Homo sapiens: one gene and its partners. The protein of the gene in region 1 purifies or fractionates together with the protein of each later gene. This does not show direct contact. Each region holds a gene or a part of one and is shown on either strand. Other genes may lie near its edges. The genes, in order: RD3, NAAA, NDUFAF7, CSNK1G3, GNB4 and RAP1B.

Region 1 (3,500 bases):
GGTGAGCCAAGATCACACCATTGCACTCCAGCCTGGGCAAAAAGAGCAAAACTCCGTTTAAAAAAAAAACTGTATGGATTAACATTAACCTGAAAAAAACCAACTTACCCACCATTCATTCATTCAGCATTAATCAAGCACTGTGTACACATCTGTGGAGGGACATAAACACGAAAGGATGATGCCAGGATCCTGCTCTCCAGGAGAGGCAAGATTTGTTGAGTAAACGCTGCAACATCAATGGAGAGAGGGAACTCTGCTGGTGAAGCATAGAGTCAGCACTGATGTGGGAGGGGAAGGTGTGACCCTAGATGGTGAAAAGTGCCAGAGTGGGCTGAGAGGTGAGTGCGGGCTTCAGACACATGGGCTGATGGAGAAGGGGTCCCAGGTGGAGGGAGGATCCAGCCATAGAACAAGGTGAGACAGGTGGAGGTCTGACAGCAGCGAGCCTAACTCATCATGGAGCCCCCACACAGGCCTGCTAAATACAAATTTAGTGAAGGACAGACCGAGTAGATGAATGAACGAATGAATGAATGGGTGAATGAGCTACTCCATGACCTGTCAGATGTGGTCTGTGCTTCTGACAACAGTGAAGGGAAATGACATTCCCGAGCTAAAGCCTGAAGTGGGTCTTCGAGGGGTCTCACTTCATCTTTCTGCACCTTTCTCCCTCCAAGCCGTTCCCCCTTCCATGCACCAATGATCCCATTTCTGCTTAGACCCTCCATACGCAGAGAAAAGAGGTCAGATGAACTCAGTCTCAACAGCATGGTGATGAAGGAGGTGTCACCTCCAGAGGACACATGCATTTTTAGGCCACCCTCCCATCACCCTGCACCCCAGTGCTTAATGCAGAGAAATGAATTGTTAAGGTAAATAATCAGACACAAAGGAGAATATTATGATGGGGTAGCAGCAGCCTTCTGGAAGGCCACAGCTAAATCTCTACTTACCGATGGAGACTTGAATGACCAACTCCTTTAGCAACCAACAGAATTAAGAAATCTGAAAACAGGCCAGGCATGATGGCTCATGCCTGTGATTCCAGCACTTTGGGAGGCCGAGGAGGGCAGCTCACTTGAAGCCAGGAGTTTGAGACCATCCTGGCCAACATGGTGAAACCCCATCTCTACTAAGAATACAAAAATTAGCTGGGCATGGTGGCACATGCCTGTAGTCCCAGCTACTCAGGAGGCTGAGGCAGGAGAATTGCTTGAACTGGGGAGGCGGAGTGAGCTGAGATGGTGCCACTGCATTCCAGCCTGGGTGACAGAGCGAGACTCCAACTCAAAAAAAAAAAAAAAGAAATCTGAGAACTTTCATTCTCCACGCAACCTAAGCCTATCACCAATGGAGGCTTCAGATTACACAGCTGACCGCTTCCTGGGAGAGTGGGACGAAAGGACGAACCATTAGACCCTACTCCTGGGGTCAGTAGCAGCTAGGACGTTTACTTCTTAGCCCTTACCTGCTTTATGTGCCCAGAATAAAGAGGTTGGGTAGTACTGTGTGTACTGGGGGGTGGGAGTGCAGGGGTGGGGGTGTCATGGCCAGAGAGCCATGAGCATCAGGAGCCTCGCCTAAGGCTAAAGGATTCCATCAGTTCAGGCACAAGGACTGTAACTGTAACTGAATGTGTCACTTTCCCTGGAGTGTTTGTATTTTTAAAAGTCTATGGGTTAGATTGATGCTTAGCACCAAAAGAGTGAATGGTGTAGCCACTGAAGAGCACTGCGAGCATGCGGAGTCACTGTTCCTGCAAGGGCTACTGAATGTGCTGGGCTACTGCACAGCTCCATGCCTTTGTCATGTTCCTCCCTCTGCCTGAAATGCCCGCCCATTCTACATGGAGACCAGGTCTAGGGTCAGCACCCTCGGAAGCTTTTCTTGACCTTCCCATCTCCGAGGTAGATGTGGCCACTCTCTACCTTGTCCCCTGACTGCACTCTGCACAGGTGCTTTTCAGAGCTCAGGAGCACTTTACGGAACGTGACTGCCTACCTCCCCTGACCCCGGGTGTGGTATGTGGTCAGGGCCTGTGCCTTATTCACCTTTCCATCCCTGGGGCTGGACATGTAGTCAGTAGGCACTTAATAAATAGCAAACAAATGAATGAATGAATGCCCGAACAAAGGAACGAATAAATGATGGAGAAGCTATAACAGTTGGATCAAGGAACAAGCCCCACAGACCTGACCTGACCTGATCCTGAACAAGAAGGCATTTTCCAAAGCTCCTTAGGGAGCTTTTTTTTCTTCTTAATCTGGGTTTGAATTTGAGCTGAAAGAAGAGAGCAAGAGAGTGGCTTGGCAGCAGAGGGTTCTCCTGTGGCCGGGAGAAATGTGAGAGAAGAAATGGAAGACACTGAAGAAAACTTTTGCCTCCAGGGCAAATTGACTGCAGAATATCCATGCCACAGCCACATAAGCTAACAAACTATTAAATAAAGTATGTTCCGTTTCCTCCCTTGTGAACTATACCTTCCTAACAACATGGAGGGTGAGATTCAGACAGCATTCTTGGACTCCTCAGAGTTCTTCTCTGACACATGGAGGTGGGTTGGGACTGCTCTCGGCCCTCAGCCTGCCTCCCTCTCTTCCCACCTCCGCTTCATCCCACATGGTAAGGGGCCTTGCAAACACGTGTGGGGACACCCCAGCTTTCACCTCCAAGGCCCAGCCACACCCCTGCAACCAGCCACCTCTGTGCCACCCTCTGACTTAGGGTTGCTCGCTGGCAGTGCTGTCTGCCCTGCTCAGTGGCCCCTTCTGTGGGGAAGTGGGCGGGCGACTGTCTGGCAGGGAATTCTGATTTCAGTCCCTAAGCCTGACCTCGAAGGGAAGTGCCCACAGGGTGGCATGTCTCCTGGACCCCCAGACACTTCACCTCAAGGCAGAGTAAGGCCAGAAGCAAGCCCGAGTACAGTCTGGGGTGCAGCCTGTATGGGGTCCTGCTTCCCTGGGCTTAAGGCTCCCGACCTGAGCTGGCCGCTAGAGAAGGTGCTTTGTGACCCACCTCCCCCATCTCCAGATGGCAGGGGCTGAGTGGAGTGATCCCACCTGAGTCCTGAATTTTGTGGGCTCTAAGCCTCTTTGGCCCAGGTGTAGGGTCTCAACAGGGGAGGAGGGTGTTCTGAGTCATCTCCTCCCCATCCCCTCACTTCCCGCAACTCTGGCCAGGACTGGAGGCTTTGGCAGAAACAAGATTTCTGCTGGTGCTATTTCTGTCCCCAGTGCCAGCTGCTCCCCCAGAAGGCTCTTCAGTGGGTCCGATTAAGTTCTTAAGGGCAAAGGAGGGAGGGAGAGACAGAGGGAGGAAGAACAGAGACAGAGAGGCAGGAGGGCAGGCTAGACAGACTCCAGAGGGGGCTGCCTTATCCCAGGGTATCCCCAGAACCTGAACCTCGGCTGAGACTGGGAAGGACGTGGTGCCTGGGGGAGGTCTGTTAAACAACAGAAAGAGTGACCTTTGGTGAGTGTCTGGCACAATTTTCTACA
Region 2 (3,955 bases), on another chromosome or scaffold:
TCCAACATGAGAAGAAAGCATTTCCTTTGTTAATGCTAGTGAATTGAATGGTGCTATTAGGCAATTCAATAAATACCTTAGTATCAAATCCAAAAGTTAGAATGTTTTTACTAGAACTTTTGCTTTAATGTGTTTGAATATGGTGACTCCAACAGATGAGGGTAAAAATGATTCGTGATTTTTCATTGAGAAAGCTGTAAGTTAAAAATAGGAAAAAGTTGGAGGTAGGAGAGGGAGGTGGTAAAATTATAATAACTTAGTTCAACTGAAAAGCATGTTATTTAGCAGGCCTGTGTCTTTTCTGTGCCTGAAAGCATTTCCTGAAGAGGAAGGCAGTCCCAGTGCTTTTTAGCTTACTCTGCCTAGGTGTTCTGGGAAAATGCCTGGGCCAGTAAAGTTTCATTATTCCAAGATCTTTTCTACCCCCATCATCTTTAGGCAGCAAGAAGCTCTAAGTATGTACAAGAGGTTACGAGATGAAGCTAGTCTGCTGGCAAAACAATAAGTATTGAAGGAAGAAACCAAGTCAAAACCTCTCTTTATTCCAGGGCCTATTACTGAGCCCATAAACCTTTAGTGGTCCCCTGCACTTTGCCTGGGATCAACCACACACTCCATGTTGCTTTCACTTCTGGGTGCACTTTTTTTCTTTGATATGGAATCTCGCTTTGTCGCCCAGGCTGCAGAGTGCAATGGTGCCATCTTGGCTCACTGCAACCTCTGCCTCCTGGGTTCAAGTGATTCTCCTGCCTCGGCCTCCCAAGTAGCTGGGATTCACAGGTGCCCGCCACCAGGCCCTGGTAATTTTTTTGTATTATTAGTAGAGACGGGGTTTCACCATGTTGGCCAGGCTGGTCTTGAACTCCTGACCTCAGGTGATTCACCCGCCTCGGCCTCCCAAAGTGCTGGGATTACAGGCGTGAGCCACCGCGCCCAGCCTGGATGCACATTTTATCATGCCCACTTCCCGGTCCAAACACTGGCTGGCCCTATTAGAGCAGTGTTCCCTGTCGCCCCAGCCCTGGTGGACACAGACACTTCAGCCACGACACACATGAAAGGATAAATGCAGGGCGACAAATAAGGGCAGAGATGAGCCACTGCCAGTATAGAGCTGGAAGGCCACTGAGTTAACTAAAGGGTCCAGATGAGAGGAGGCTTAGTTTCAAAAACTTCCTGGAAAAGTACGTTTTGAGCAGAATTTTTTTTTTTTTTTTTTTGAGACAGAGTCTCGCACTGTCGCCAGGGCTGGTGTGCAGTGGCGCGATCGCGGCTCGCTGCAACCTCCGCCTCCCGGGTTCAAGTGATTCTCCTGCCTCAACCTCCTAAGTAGCTGGGATTACAGGCGCCCACCACCACGCCTGGCTAATTTTTTGTGTTTTTCGTAGAGACGGGGTTTCACTATGTTGGCCAGGCTGATCTCGAACTCCTAACCTCGTGATCTGCCCACCTTGGCCTCCCAAAGTGCTGGGATTACAGGTGTGAGCCAACGCGCCCGGCCTTTGAGCAGAATTTTAAAAGTACGCTACCTGGATTGGGGAAGAGAAAACCCGGGGCTACACGTAGAGGGAAAGTTTAGTGTTGAATCGGAGAATCTGCTTTCCCTCTCGAAGCCTACGATGTGCAGCTCAGATTTACCCAGAGAGGCAAAGAGGAAGCGCTGGAGGTTTCTAGGCAAGCAGGCACCGCCCTGTTTTTATCACACGGAAAATATGTCTCCTCCCGCTAGTCTGTGTCGGGGGCCCCCGCAAGCCCCGCGTTACTCCGCGCGGGCTTGGGGCACTCACACGGAGGACTCGTAGGCCAGGTTGACCAGAAGGCAGTCCGCCAGGCTGAGGTTCATGAAGTCACACATGCCGCGGATCTCGCCGGTGAAGGGCTGGGGCAGGAAGCGCTCCAGCTCCAGGACCACTTTTCCGATTAACACGTGCACCCACTTGGGGACTCTGTCCCTAGAAACAAAAAGCACAAGGGCGTCTGACCCGCTCAGAGGTCGGCGGCGTGCGACTGCGTGTGCACTGCGAGCGGGGCTACATCCTTAGGGCGTGAGGTCTCAGGGCCACTGCTCCCCAGTCAGTGGACCGCCCAGGCGCGGCGTCACTCAATCTGCAGCCTCCCGGGAGTGGGGGGAAGGGGGCGGGGGGAAGGCGGCGGGTAAGAAAACTCCGAATGGGGAGGGCGAGTGAGGCTGGTCCCAAAGGGGCAAGCTTGGAAGGCCCGCGAGGCCCGCAAGGAAGGCGCGGGTTGCCCCTCCTTGGTAGCTATGCAGCCCGGGCGACAACTCGCGCGCCACGCTGACCCGGAATGGCTCAAGGACTGGCGTGCCACGGGTGACACCGAACTTGAAAGCCGAACCTGCCGCGCTGGATTCTCCCCAACCCGGACGCTGCTCAGGGCGGCAGCCAAAACCAGTTCTCCAAGGGTGGCGGGGAGTAAAGCGTCCCCGTTTAAAGCACTCTGAGCAGCGCGCGTTTGACTCCGACCCGCAGGGCCGGTGTCCCCGCAGACCCCGTCCAGGGCCCCAGCTCACCCGATGACTTGCGCCATCGCGGCGCGCACCAAGTCCAAGTCGTAGTGCCGCAGCACGGGCAGCCAGCGCAGCTCGGGGACCGAGTCCAGGCTCACGTTGAAGCGCGGCGCTGCTGGGGGCGAGGCGGCTGACAGCCCGGCCCCGGCCAGCAGCAGCAGCAGCAGGGACGGAAGCCCCGGGCGCGCCTCCCGGTCCGCGGTCCGCATGGCTCGGGCTCCAGCGGCCGCAACTTGGAGACCTGCAGCCGCTGTCGGAGCCCGGGTAAGCCGTGGAGGAGGAGGAGCTGGGGCTGGGCTGCGATCGCTGGAGGTGGGGCCCGCGCACGACCCGCCCGCCCCTGTCACCGGCAAGCCGGAGCGGCGACACCTCCCGTCCCCGCCGCGCATCCACTAGCCCGCCCCGACTCTCCATCGGGCCTGGAGGTCCCTGACCGCGGGGCCGCTAAGGGTTGGGGCTGCCGGCAGCCGGCTTCTCACCAACTGCCGGTTCCAGCGCACCTGCTTGGGCCGAAGGAGTGTAGGCTGCGGCCGGGAGGGGCTGTAAGATTTTCAGTAGCGAAAAGGTGTCAGGAAAGACTTTTCAGTTAAACTTTGTTTGCTTGTTTGTTTGTTTGTTTGAGATGTAGTCTCACTCTATTGCCCAGGCTGGAGTGCGGCGGCGAGATATCCGCTCACTGCCAACTCCGCCTCCTGGGTTCAAGCGATTCTCCTGCCTCAGCCTCTCAAGTAGCTGGGATTACAGGCGTCCACCACCATACCTGGCTAATTTTTGTATTTTTGGTAGGGACAGGGTTTCACCATGTTGGCCAGACTAGTCTCGAATTCCTGACCTAAGGTGATCCACCGGCCTCAGCCTCCCAAAGTGCTGGGATTACAGGCGTGAGCCACCGCGCCTGGCTGGTAAAACATTTTTTTAAAGCTCAAAATTTAGTGAACATTTATCTGCTAAATATTTTTCGCGGACATTATCTCATTTAATCATCAAAACAAGCCAACAGGTAGGTTCCACTAATCCTCGCTTTACTGATGAGGAGTGTGAGGCTTGGAGAGGTGAAGCCATGTACCCGAGGTTACTCTGCTGGTGTGTCTCTGCACTGGCCTCCAAGTAAGGAGGTCTGAATCCACAATCCACCTTCACACCTAAGTTTCTTCACCTTTGAGTTCCCAATGTCTGGGAGACAAACTTAGGAAAATCTTAGTAAGGCTGGGACATTCTTAACGGTTAGCACAGTTGTCTGTGGGTAAAACAGGGTACATGTGTACATGAATAGTAGAAACTAAATGAAAGGGCCGGGCATGGTGGCTTAGGCTTGTAATCCCAGCAGTTTGGGGGGCTGAGGCGGGTGGATCACCTGAGGTCAGAAGTTTGAGACCAGCCTGGCCAACATGGTGAAACCCTGTCTCTACTAAAAATACAAAAATTAGC
Region 3 (4,026 bases), on another chromosome or scaffold:
TATCTTTTAAAGTTTGCACCACGTGTTTCATGTGTATATATTACCTATTCAAAACTTAAATATACACAAGCACAGAGCAAACTGTGAATCTGCCTATCTCTAACTAACTCCTCCACCTTGAAAGTCCAGTCTCCAAACAAAATAATATTAAAAACAAAGTTAATTTCTGTTCCTTATCTGCTTAAAATCTTCCAGTGGTTTTGCATCAAACTCAGAGCAAAAGCCTGCCCTCTGACCCCTCGGCCCTCCTTTCTTACTATTCTCCCCTTAACTCACTCTGCCTCTGCTACACTGGCATTTTGGCTGCTCATGGAATAGGTTAGGCACTCTTCTGCCTGTCTTTGCATTTGCTGTTCCAACTGACTGGAATGGCAGCTCACTCCTTCCTGTCCTTTAGGATTCTGCTCAAACATTTCCGTGATGTGTTTGTCGATCATCTCATTTAATACTAACGCGCTCCCACTCCTTATCGTCCTTCCTTGTTTTATTTTCTTTTATAGCACTACCCCGCGTCTGCTGTACTATGTGTTTAAAAGTTTGTTTACTGTTTCTCTCCCTTAATTAGGATGCTCCAAAAAAGAGGGCTTCTGGGGCATACAGTGACACGTGCATGTACTCTATGAGAACAGAAATGAAAATTCCAATACCACTGGTGTTCAAAACACTCATACCACAAGGTCAGGACCAAGAAAAGCCACTCTCCGACCTGATGGTGTGATGGTTATACCACGTCAATAAAATCAGAAGATCGCCTACATCCTAAGAATAGCCAGAGAATACAACGTTCAATTCGAAACTTTTCTTTTGTAAACAGCAGTGGAAACCGGCGTGGGAAGCGCACCGAACACATGCTTCAGAGGCTGGGATCTCGGTCCTGGACGCCCGCGCTCTACGCAGCGCGGAAGCGGCGGGGCAGTCAGCCTAGCCACCTTCGGAACTCTCCACGCCTGATCCCGTTCCCCGGAGCCCGCGGCCGTTACCTTGGTGCCTCCGAGCCGTAACACTTCCTCCAGGGAGAACCCATTCTCGGCTTCACTAGTATTATCCTCATCCTCCTCGTCCGGATCTTCTACTGCCTCCTCGGGGCGCCAAGGCCGCTTGGCATGGAACTCCAAAGGCTCCTTGACTGCGGCCATGGCGGGCAAAGCATACGCGCGTGAAACTCAGCCTATTTCCGCTCTGCCAGTGGCGTAATTCCTGTCGGGGCGTGTCTTCTCCCGGAAATGGTCTAAGCCCCAGCTCCTGGCGGAGCGAGCTAGCCTGCGAATTTCAGCATGAGTGTACTGCTGAGGTCAGGTTTGGGGCCGTTGTGTGCCGTGGCGCGCGCAGGTAAGCGTCAGTCCCCTCGAAGCCCGGTTGCCGTGGAAGCCGCGTGGGGCGCCTTCCTCAGCTCTTCAGTTGAGGGTACCGGGGGATCAAGGGCTCGGGGGCTCACTTCCACCTTGAAGGTACCCTGGGCTGGAAACGGGTCCGGTACAAACGCAATAGGGCTGCGTAGTCGTGGGCAAGTGGGTGCTGTCTCTGCGCCCCGTGGGCGTGCTAAGCACAGTAGCCCGCGGTCTGCGGTGGGGCGAGGTTAAGGGTTCACGAAGCTGTTTTGAAAACGCTCAGGCGGCTTGCGCTCGTGAATGGTCAGATTTATCATGGGGTCTGTTTAATTTGTGTTTTTCGCAGCCATTCCTTTTATTTGGAGAGGGAAATACTTCAGCTCCGGGAATGAGCCTGCAGAAAACCCGGTGACGCCGATGCTGCGGCATCTTATGTACAAAATAAAGTCTACTGGTCCCATCACTGTGGCCGAGTACATGAAGGAGGTGTTGACTAATCCAGCCAAGGTATGGGTCGGGTAGCCCGAGGACTAGGCCCTCTCTAGCCGATTTGCGAGGTGCAAGCCAGGAGGGAGAAGCCCGAAGGTTCTCAGCCCAGGCAGTGGGGGTGCCTGCCAGGGGAAGAGCCATTTCTGAGGACCTGGGGACAGATAATTTGTCAGTTGGTCAGGGCTGGCTCACGTCAGAGGCAGTGCCAGTAAAGAGGAGAGGACACGGTCCAAGGGTGTTTAGGAGACAGAATGTAGCTGATTGGATTTATGATGCGGGAAGGATGACTTTCCTACTTGGCTGATGGTGGGTGGTGTGGATTCATTGCTTTGGGAGAAGGAATACGGGAGGAAGGATGGAGAGTTCAGGCTGGTATATGAATTTGAAGTGTGTGGGACTCTTAGGTAGAAATCTCCAACAGGCAGCTGGAAATAGGAATTACTGCCTGGAAAGTCGTCTGTGTTGGAATGGCTTCAGCTGGCATTGGAGACATGTGCTGGGTTTTCTCACATGTGCAGTTGAGAATGCAGTCTGGGTCGTCTTCACTGTTCTAGGATTAGGCACAGTCACAGCTTTCTGACCCACGTTTCCTTGTCTGTTCTACAGAGCCATTTGGTGAAAGCCTATAGTCCTTTATTTTAGAATATTTCATCTTTTGCTGGGTTGAAATATGACCTCTGTGGAATTCTGGGGTTAGATTGGCCATTGTTGTTGGATATGGTAGTGTGACTCTAGTGTCGAGGTTTACCCAAGGCCGGTATCTTTCTTTCGATGCCGGTTAGGCAGGGCTGCAAGATAGGTGGCTTAGACTAGTGTGGTGGTACTAGAAATAGAAGAGGGTGATTTAGAAAGGGACTGACAGGATTTGCCGATGGATTGAGTGATGGAACGGAGGAATCAAGGCTGATTCGTACTTTTAGCTTGAGCAGTTGGGTGATGATGGTACCTTTTATTGAGATTAAGACAGACAGGACCAGGTTTGGAGGAGTACTAGGGAGAGGGCCTACACCAGGAGCTGCATTTTATACATATTTTGTTAGCAGTGACATGCAGGTGGAGATAGAAAGTAGGCAATTCGCTGTAAGAGTCTGGCGTTCAGGGCCGGACGTGGCGGCTCACGCCTGTAATCCCAGCACTTTGGGAGGCCAAGGCGGGTGGATCACGAGGTCAGGAGTTTGAGACCAGCCTGACCAACTTGGTGAAACCCCGTCTCTATTAAAAATACAAAAATTAGCCGGGCGTGGTGGCTTGTGCCTGTAATCCCAGCTAGTCAGGAGGCAGGAGAATCGCTTGAACCCGGGACGCAGAGGTTGCAGTGAGCCTAGATTTCGCCATTGCACTCCAGCCTGGGCAACAGAGCGAGACTCTGTCTCAAAAAAAAAAAAAAAAAAAGTGAGCCTGGTGTTCAGAAGAAAGACTGGGCAGGCATATATACATTTGCTCGTCATCAGCATATAGGTCATATTTAAAGCCAAGGAACCAGGGAGAACATACTGAGAGAAAGGAAGGTTTCCCAGCATTGAGAGTAGGGGTAACTCTAAAATGTAGAGGCTCTTAACCTAGGGACCCTTTAATAGAAATCAGGGGTTTCATGAAGCTGGATGGAAAAAATATTATACCTTTATTTTCACTAACTTTCAACTGAAATTTAGCATTTCTTCAATTATGAACATACGCAGCAACTAGTAGCATCAGCAATACCTGTGACTTTGTCATCTGTGGAAATCATTGGTATTTCCTTATCACAATACAGTGATCACAGGCATCTCAGGATTTCATCGTGCTCATCCTTACTTCAAAATTTTGTTAATTATTGGGTCTTTGGCTTGATTATGGGCTTTTTTGTTTGTTGGCTTTTTGAGATAGAGTCTCATTCTGTCACCCAGGCTGGAGTGCAGTAGTGCAATCTTGGCTCACTGCAACCTCCACCTTCAAGGTTCAAAGGATTCTTGTGCCTCAGCCTCCCGAGTAGTTGGGATTACAGGTGTATGTTTCCATGCCCAGCTAGGTTTTTTGTATTTTCAATGGAGATCGGGTTTTGCCTTGTTGGCCAGGCTGGTCTTGAACTCCTGGCCTCATATGATCCGCCTGTCTCAGCCTCCTAAAGTGTTGGGATTACAGGTGTGAGCCACTGTGCGCGGCCTAATTATATTTTTTTAATACACTAGTAAAGAAGTGTATATATCACATTTTTTAGAACATTTGATAC
Region 4 (2,186 bases), on another chromosome or scaffold:
ACATCCAAAGTTTTCTGCTTAAGGGAGAATGTAATCATTCAGCAGTAAGTTTCGGTGAGATTTCTTTAGGCTTCCACCTTATACACTGCAACAAGGTTCACATTTACTACCTCTCCTTAGTGTATTTCTTTATAACTCCAACATACATCACTTTTTAAAGTATTCATTTCTTGCTGTCTAACATACATTATTATTTGGAAGCATAAAGTTACATTGTACAAATATTTTGCATTTTTAAAAATAAGCGCTTTTGCCACTTCTGCAACACAGTACTTCACATAGTGATGCAACAAAAGCGGAGCACATATTTACCACACTCCTTAAGATTCATTTTACCACCACCATCTGCCGAACCCATATTGCTTTTTCCTCAGTACCTCTGGGCAGTGACTGTACCATGATTTCACGGAGAGAATGTTAATATGACTTATGAATAACAGTACCATCAGTAATACTGAAATCAATGCAGATGTCACAAAATATGAACTTCTCAAGGAATAACTTCTTTTAAATATTTGGGCAACTCTGTTTTCTCTGTTGTATTATCCACTGAGAAAAGAAAATTCCTGTTTGATTATGCTCTTACAGAAGTTATAAAAAACCAGATTAGGTATATAACTGGTTGACACTTAAGATACTGTACTGCTTTCTACAACAGAAGAACTTCTGGAAAATGTTCTATGGAACTATATTCATTGATACCACCTCATTGGTCCATTCCATTCACTGATGGGCAAAGCACTCATGTTTTGACAAAACTTTAAAGCTTCCATAAAGGTTAAATTAGAGAAAAAAAAAAAAAGAAAAAGAATGTAAGACAACCACAAAATGAAGTATGAAAGTATGACATTTTTGTTTCTAAGAGTGAGTCCTTGAAAATATACGTGGTCACTACAGAGATGATTTTAATCACAAGACAGCAGATGAACATGTAAGTAACTCCCCAGGATCTGTCTGTGTCCAGAGTCATTTGTGGCGCTGTATGGTTTTCCTTTTCCTTCGTTTGAAAAAACAGCAGCACCTGCAGATGAGGGAAACACTCTTTTTATTTTAAAAGCACTAAAATATCACAAAGTTGACTGTATCACTTTAACTTAAATGATCATAAAAAGCAACAGGCTAGTGCAAGATAAACAGTGATTACACCAATGAAGCATACGTATTAGTGAAAATATGGCAGAGCTATTACTATTATGTTTCATTCACATGCCTTTTAAGAATAGCAAGACATTCTATGCAACATAAAAAGGAGCCATTAAATTCAAAAGGTTTTTCACTAAGAGTAATTAAGAATTTCATTCTATGCATTCTCACCCTTTCTCCCTGATATTTATATGTGACTGTTGAAGCCATTAGGAAGGCAATAATGATCCTAACATTGGGGAGTTTATTCTCACCAATAATCAGTTTAGACTCCAAAAATAAAAAGACACTCCAATATACACTAGTCAACATTTTCCATCATATTAAAAAAGTGAAAGACAGAAAATACATTATATAGAATACCAAGACTGGCAATTTTGAATTCTTTAAGGGTTAAAGAAGGTCAAGCTTATTGAAAGTTTAGTTAAGGTAAAAACTATGCTTAATATTTAAAGTAGCACAATTGAGGTGATTCCATTTTACAAGTCAAAACTGTATATGCAAAAAAATATAATACTGACTTTTATTTCTAGGTGAAAAAAAATCTTGGCTGGGCACAGTGGCTCATGCCTGTAATCCCAGCACTTTGAGAGGCCGAGGCAGGAGGATTGCTTGAGCTCAGGAGTTTAAGAATTCAAGACCAGCCTGGACAATACAGCAAGACCCCATCTCTAAATATCTCTCTCTCTCTAACTACATATACACATACACAAATATCTCTAAATATATATATACACACATACATATATAAATGTACACACATATATTATATTATACATACATACGCACACACACACACACACACACATGCACTGGACATGGTGGCACCCGCCTGTTACCCCATCTCCTTGAGAGGCTGAGGCAGGAGGAATGTTTGATCTATGATTGTGCCACTGAACCCCAGTCTGTGTGACAGGGCAAGACCCTGTCTCTAAAAGAGGAGATGAACACATCAAGGCTGCTGTGGGAAAATGCTGTGGTCTGGTATGAACTGAAAAAATCACTGATCTGCTCCCACCAAAAAAAAAAAAGAAAAAAATTAA
Region 5 (3,500 bases), on another chromosome or scaffold:
TATATATATATATATGTATATATATTTTCAAGGCCAAGCATGGTGGCTCATGTCTGTAATCCCAGTACTTTGGGAGGCCGAGGTGGGAGGATCACTTGAGGTCAAGAGTTTGAGGCCAGCCTGGCCAACATGGTGAAACCCTGTCTCTACTAGAAAAAAAAAAAAAACATGAAAGTTAGCTGGTCATGGTGGTGCCTGCCTGTAATCCCAGCTACTTGGTAGGCTGAGGCAGGATAATCGCTTGAACCTGGGAGGCAGATATTGCAATGAGCCGAGATCCCTACTGCATTCCAGCCCAGGAGACAAAGTGAGACTCTGTCTCGAAAAAAAAAAAATTATATATATTTATGTATGTATATATATATGTATGTATAGATTCATATAGTTTATGCTTCTTTTTAAATAGTTTCTGATTCTTTTTGGTATACCCTGATTAAGTGTTTTTTTCCTTATGAAAACTCTTAGGTTGGGAATGAGATAGTAAGAGGGGTCAAGAAGACTAATATTTTTAAAAAATCTTGGGAAGGCTTCATGTTTAATTAATATTGATCATTATTATTAAGGAAGTATTTTATGTGCTCTACAAATATAAAATTGGCTTTCTTACAGTTAAAATTGTAAATGTTTACTGTGATCATTTGCCTCTAGATTTTTATTTGTGGCTGGTTTTTTACTAAAGCATAGAGGTATATCTATTCTTTTTAGTTAATAGTCTGCAGAAGGCATTCTTATTATACATTTATGTATATTATTTATAACAGCACATAGGATTATTTTAAACTAATCATAATTTTCAGGAACATATTGATCCCATAACGGCTCTGTGGAATTATATACATTAAATTACCTTCAGTTACTATAAATGTACTTTATGTTTGCTTTTTTAACTCCTCACTGTTTCTAGTTCAAGTTATCTCATGAACTATGATTAAGGTAAAGAATAACATTTTTGTTGCTTTCAAAAGATTACATCAAATATGGACTCTGTGGGTCGAATACAAATGCGAACAAGACGTACACTGAGGGGCCACCTAGCTAAAATCTATGCTATGCATTGGGGATACGATTCCAGGTTTGTACCTGTCATTACCTGTCATTTTTAAACTGTTGCAGAATTATTTTCATTAAGAACCATCATTTGCATTTTCTTTGTTTAAAAACAGAATATATTCATGAAGCGTTTGCAGAAAATGCATCTCAGATGAACATGCTGCTTTCAATAAGAATATTAATTGACTCTTTAAAAGTATAAACATTTTTAATATGGAATCCAGGACAACTGTTCAGAAGAGGATTCCTTTTCTTTGCAGTGGAACATTGCAGACATTCTTTGTTTTTTAAATAGGCACAAAGCGTTTTTACTGTATATGAAGCTTGAAATTTCAGTTCATAAGCAAATACGTATTGAACACCTATGTGCAAGTTTTTGGATATTGCTATAGTTTGTTATTACATAAATTCGCAAATAATGGAAATTACATGAAACAAAGGTGTTTGTACTGAATACATCTTTTACTCCCTCGACTGCATCACAGAAAGGTGTGTGCTTGAATGTGCAAGCTGACCATCTGCAGGTGCACAGGCACACGCACAGCTGCTACGTGGCCTACAGTTAGATAGATTGCTCATCACTGTCATTCACTATGTGTATAAGGCTACAGCACAGCCTATGTTTTTCCATTGTCTGGCAATAGCAGATGTGTCTGCTATCACAGTGGTTTACTTGTTCCTTTGATTTGGTTAATCTTAATGGGAAATGCCTAAACCAAGAAACTTCTATGTTTTAATAGAAGTTGCACATTTATTCTCTTCTCCCAGGAGACACTAAAATTATAAAGTAGAAGAAGCCTCAATTGTTGCTCTAATTGGGATACTTGACCACAATAATATAGAACATGTGCCTCTTACGAAGGGATACATAAAATTATATAATTGGCAACTGACATAATGTCTTAATCTTTTTCTTTTTCTTTTCTTTTTTCTTTTTTTTTTTTTTTTTTGAGACAGAGTTTCACTCTTGTTGCCCAGGCTGGAGTACAATGGTGTGGTATCGGCTCACTGCAACCTCTGCCTCCCAGGTTCAAGGGATTTTCCTGCTTCAGCCTCCCAAGTAGCTGGGATTACAGACATCCACAACCACGCCTGACTAATTTTTGTATTTTTAGTAGAGAGGGGGTTTCACCATGTTAGCCAGCCTGGTCTTGAACTCCTGACCTCAGGTGATCCAACCGCCTCAGCCTCCCAAAGTGCTGGGATTAATCAGGTGTGAGCCACCGCGCCTGGCCGAATGTCTTATTCTTTTTCTTAAAGGAGTTGAAGATAAAAATAATTTACCTGTTGATAAAGCAAAATTTTAACTTAAAATATAGTAACTTGAAACAATGTTTATGGTTCTTGCTTTCCTTAAACGTTTTCTGAAGACTGTTAATCTTCATAGAAAAATGAAACCATCATCCAGGAACCTATCTCACATAGTCTTCCCACCCATCCGTGTTATCAATCCATTACTTAATGTTCTCCTCAACTCTTATGCTGATGATGCCAATTGATTTCTAAAGAATTTTCTTTAGATGCCATCCTATACCCCACTATCAGATAGATCTTCCCTTTTGTAAAACCTTGTAGTGATTGCTACCCAAGAATCTGATAATGTTATTTACCTCTAGGGAAAGGAACTGGGTGGCTGATGATAGGCCCAGGAAGGTGCTTTTTAAATTTTCTTCTGTATATCCTTTTTTATTTTTTGAATTTTACACCATGGTGAAAAGTAAAAATTCCAAACAAGGCTGGGCATGGTGGCTCATGCCTGTAATCCCAGAACTTTGGGAGGCCAAGCGAGTGGATCACTTGAGGTCAAGAGTTCAAGACCAGCCTGACCAACATGTTGAGATCCCATCTTACCAGTCGTGGTGGTGCACACCTGTTATGCCAGCTATTCGGGAGGCTGAGGCAGGAGAATCACTTGAACCTGAGAGGCGGAGGTTGCAGTGGGCTGAGATCGTGCCATTGCACTCTAACCTGGGTGTCACAGTGAGTGTCTGTCTCAAAAAAAAAAAAAAAATCCAAACAAAACAAAAAATTTAGTGGCTAAAATTACTTAGGAGTTCATACTCTTTAGTTTAACAAAGCTTTCTGCAGTTTAAGCCCAGTCTGCTTTTCTCAACTTATTTTTCCATTTTCTCACAAACTGTACTACTGGAAGACCCACAATTCCTGAAACAACACTCAGTGTATTTTTCTACCTGTCATTGATCTTACATAGCTTTCTCCTAAAATACAGCCTTTTCTGTATCTTTAGCTCTCAACATTTTCTTTCAAGACTCATTCTCTTGTGATTAACTCATCTAGCCATTGTTCCTCCTTTACTCTCCTGTGGCATTTATTTTATACCCCTCTTCTGACAGTTTTTACTTACTTGATTTAATATAAATATGAGTAAATGTCTTATCTTCACCAGATGGTAGAGGCCTCAAGAGCAGGCGATGTATCCTGCGTTGTAC
Region 6 (3,500 bases), on another chromosome or scaffold:
TTCCAGAGGAATTCCTGCATTTTGCTATTGTATTGAGAAGCTTGTGGATAACTTAGAAGCATCAGCCACAAATATGTTGGCACAATGTAGTAATAGGATTCCACATTCTAACTGCAACTTTAAAACACAAGGTAACAAACAGCTGGATGCAACATACATACCTTTTGGCGCATAAAAACTAAGTAAAAATAGATTATATATATAGTCCTTATTTTATTGATACCCTTTCAGTTCTATTAACTGAGAACTTAGAAAGTCCCTGAATTTAGTATAAAGTAACTTTGAAAAATATATTCTAATGTGAGGATAAATTTTAGAATACACAGATAATTATAATTTCATTTTACCCAGCATTTTCCATTTCCTTTCCAGAAGCTTTCACCAAAAATTGCTACTAAATAGACAAAACATGTTTCCTTTCATCTTTTTCCCTTCCTACAAGGCAAAGAAAAAGGAAACAGGTAGAGGCAATCCACCACTTCGGCAATCAGTTCACTGTATATTTTTAAAATAAAGTTACTTAGTGAAATGCTGGGCCAGGCACAGTGGCTCATGCCTATAATCCCAGCACTTGGGAGGCCAAGATGGGCAGATCCCTTGAGCCCACGAGTTTGAGGTGAGCTTGGGCAACATGGCGAAACGTCTCTACAAAAAATACAAAACCTGGCCGGGCGCGGTGGCTCATGCCTGTAATCCCAGCACTTTGGGAGGCCAAGCCAGGTGGATCACCTGAGGTCAGGAATTCGAGACCAGCCTGACCAATATGGTGAAATCCCCTCTCTACTAAAAATACAAAACTTAGCTGGGTGCGGTGGTGTGCGCCTGTAGTACTAGCTAAGGCAGGAGATCTGCTTGAACCTGGAGGCGGAGGTTGCAGTGAGCTGAGATTGCACCACTGCACTCCAGCCTGGGGGACAGAGAGAGACTCCGTCTCAAAAAAAAAAAAAAAAAAAAAAAAAATTAGCCAGGCACAGTATTCCCAGCTACTCGGGAGGCTTAGACTGGAGGACTGCTTGACCCCTGGAGGCGGAGGCTGTGGTGAACTGAGATCGTGCCACTGCACTCCAGCCTGACTGACAGAGCGAGACTCTGTCTCAAAAAAAACAAAAAACAAAACAACAACAACAAAAAAACAAAGGCCGGGCACAGTGGCTCACGCCTGTAATCCCAGCACTTTGGGAGGCCGAGGCAGGTGGATCTCGAGGTCAGGAGATCCAGACCATCCTGGCTAACACAGTGAAACCCCGTCTCTACTAAAACACAAAAAATTAGCCAGGTGTGGTGGCGGGCGCCTGTAGTCTCAGCTACTCGGGAGGCTGAGGCAGGTGAATGGCGTGAACCCTGGAGGCGGAGCTTGCAGTGAGCGGAGACCGTGCCACTGCACTCCAGCCTGGGCGACAGAGTGGGACTCCATCTCAAAAAAAAAAAAAATCCAAATTATTTACTAGAGTTTTTAATGGATGCTCACTTCCTTTATTCAGTCTATCTGCACAACAGTTAAAAACATTCAATCCCCCAGTACCGGAAAAAAAATCACAAGTTATGAAACCAGAATTCAGCTAAAATTTAAAAGGTCTCACTGATATATGTATATGTGTGTGTGTATGTATGTGTATATATATACACATGTATAACTACAAAAACATAAAGTAAAAGTAATTACAAGTAAGCTTTAGGAAATGGTTTGATATAAAACTCAAACTCACAAGATTAAATAATTACTCTCTATGGTCAGAGAGACAGATTTGTAACTCAAAAGAACATTTCTAGTATGCAGGCACCTCATACACAATCTAAGTAATTTTTTTTTTTTTGACAGTCTCACTCTGTCGCCCAGGTTGGAGTGCAGTGGAGCGATCTTGGCTCACTGCAACCTCCGCCTCCCAGGTTCAAGCGATTCTCCTGCCTCAGTCTCCCAAGCAGCTCGGATTACAGGCACCTCCCACTACGCCCAGGTAATTTTTTGTATTTTGAATTGTATACTGATATCACAGAATATACTCCTCCTGTACAATAAAAATCAGATGGAAATTCTGTAACTCATGTTGTAAATATTTTTATTTTAGGGAATTTAAATTAAAAAAAACTGGTACATTTCCCCCACATTTTCATTTTTTCCTGTTTTAAGGTTCTTTGGAAAGTTTTAAAAATTTTGACCCTCTACTGATTCAAAGGAAAAAAAATCTTTCTAAATTACTGCTTAAATAATCAGTTGCTACTGTACCCTTGATTTGACCAACATTAGGAATAAATAGTCCAATGTTATGAAATACGGAATGTAAGTGATACTATTTTTTGTTGCTGGTGAATTTTAAAAAGTGATGTTTTTAAGGCAGCACAAAAGTTCCTGATAACTTTTCTTGTTTAAAATAGAAACTCTCCACGACCAAAGAGACTTGTTTTAGAATCCAGTGCTCAACTGGGTTCAAAGTACAACAGATTACATACAAATCAGTTTTTACTGCAAATGGATAAATTCATCTATTCTTTGTAGCTACTGCTTCCACTGTGCTTATGAGATTTACAAAGAACTTAAGACCTCAAATGGCAATTAGTACCTTTCAATACCATTGCAAAATAATCTATGAACACAGAAAAACACTAGCTTCCAGAGCCATGGTACAGTACTCCTGTTTACAGATGGCTGAACTAAAAATTTTGTCCAATGTTACAATGAATCACTGCATCAGCCAAAATGTCTTAACTTGTTCTAAAATTCAATTCAATTTGAAAAGGCTAACAAAAACTTCAGCCTAATCTCTTAGACCATGGAGTCCTCAATAATGACAGGAGGGGGAAGAAAACCCAGGGCATATTTTTAGTCACAACCTATGTCTCAGAAAGTTTAAGACAGACCAATCTTTACCTAACTTTTCTATAGAGTGAACACGTGACATCACTGCTATAAAACAGCAGTAAATAGCTAATTCATAAATGCTAAATTACTCCTAGTGCCAGTCAAATCTAGAAACTGCAGATCAATACCCAACCTCCTCTTTAGCAACACAAACATACAGAGAAACACAGTTATTTTACATCTTTAAGGAAATGAGGCAAATCAGTAAGATCTGTGTGATAGTCGATAATAAAACAGCCTATTTAAACAATACTTATGGGGAAAAAGTAAATGGACACCTTGTAAAATCGGTCAAATTCTCTGTATCAGATCCAATTTCAGATTAGTTTCACTACCTCAATAAATATTTATCGAGTACCTACAACAAAAGGCAAAAAAAACCTGAACGTGAGCTTTTCATCCAAATCTTGGACTGCATTTAAAATAACATGTCTAATCAGTTACCATGTTATCAATCTTTGCATAGACCTTCCACCAATCTTGAATTAGATAGGAAGATACAATTGAAAGGATCCTTACAAAAATGGATCTAGTTATTTTAATAATTAATTCTTTGCTATACCCTCCTTACATGGTAGCTCTTTATTATGGGAGGGGGTCACTTTACCTTTATACAGCTAAGAGAAAATATTGGAATTCTGAA

The links.
Region 2: the proteins of RD3 (region 1) and NAAA purify together in Homo sapiens (affinity purification with mass spectrometry; one large-scale study listed by BioGRID and IntAct). This does not show direct contact.
Region 3: the proteins of RD3 (region 1) and NDUFAF7 purify together in Homo sapiens (affinity purification with mass spectrometry; 3 studies listed by BioGRID and IntAct, with this or other methods). This does not show direct contact.
Region 4: the proteins of RD3 (region 1) and CSNK1G3 purify together in Homo sapiens (affinity purification with mass spectrometry, with the first as the bait; one large-scale study listed by BioGRID). This does not show direct contact.
Region 5: the proteins of RD3 (region 1) and GNB4 purify together in Homo sapiens (affinity purification with mass spectrometry, with the first as the bait; one large-scale study listed by BioGRID). This does not show direct contact.
Region 6: the proteins of RD3 (region 1) and RAP1B purify together in Homo sapiens (affinity purification with mass spectrometry, with the first as the bait; one large-scale study listed by BioGRID). This does not show direct contact.

Annotation. Positions count from the first base shown.
Region 1 is NC_000001.11:211,482,163-211,485,662, forward strand, and holds part of RD3 (protein RD3), read right to left. Parts: intron 1-3,500.
Region 2 is NC_000004.12:75,938,214-75,942,168, forward strand, and holds the start of NAAA (N-acylethanolamine-hydrolyzing acid amidase isoform 1 precursor), read right to left. Parts: upstream 2,801-3,955; 5' UTR 2,737-2,800; coding exon 2,531-2,736; intron 1,953-2,530; coding exon 1,788-1,952; intron 1-1,787.
Region 3 is NC_000002.12:37,230,432-37,234,457, forward strand, and holds the start of NDUFAF7 (protein arginine methyltransferase NDUFAF7, mitochondrial), read left to right. Parts: upstream 1-1,226; 5' UTR 1,227-1,274; coding exon 1,275-1,329; intron 1,330-1,401; exon of another isoform or gene 1,402-1,448; intron 1,449-1,674; coding exon 1,675-1,835; intron 1,836-4,026. Other genes in the region: CEBPZ (CCAAT/enhancer-binding protein zeta), read right to left, coding at 981-1,136. UniProt on the Homo sapiens protein: Arginine methyltransferase involved in the assembly or stability of mitochondrial NADH:ubiquinone oxidoreductase complex (complex I).
Region 4 is NC_000005.10:123,613,177-123,615,362, reverse strand, and holds part of CSNK1G3 (casein kinase I isoform gamma-3), read right to left. Parts: intron 1,022-2,186; coding exon 967-1,021; 3' UTR 1-966. UniProt on the Homo sapiens protein: Serine/threonine-protein kinase. Casein kinases are operationally defined by their preferential utilization of acidic proteins such as caseins as substrates. It can phosphorylate a large number of proteins. Participates in Wnt signaling.
Region 5 is NC_000003.12:179,416,971-179,420,470, reverse strand, and holds part of GNB4 (guanine nucleotide-binding protein subunit beta-4), read left to right. Parts: intron 1-965; coding exon 966-1,072; intron 1,073-3,500. UniProt on the Homo sapiens protein: Guanine nucleotide-binding proteins (G proteins) are involved as a modulator or transducer in various transmembrane signaling systems.
Region 6 is NC_000012.12:68,613,899-68,617,398, reverse strand, and holds part of RAP1B (ras-related protein Rap-1b isoform 1 precursor), read right to left. Parts: intron 1-3,500. UniProt on the Homo sapiens protein: GTP-binding protein that possesses intrinsic GTPase activity. Contributes to the polarizing activity of KRIT1 and CDH5 in the establishment and maintenance of correct endothelial cell polarity and vascular lumen.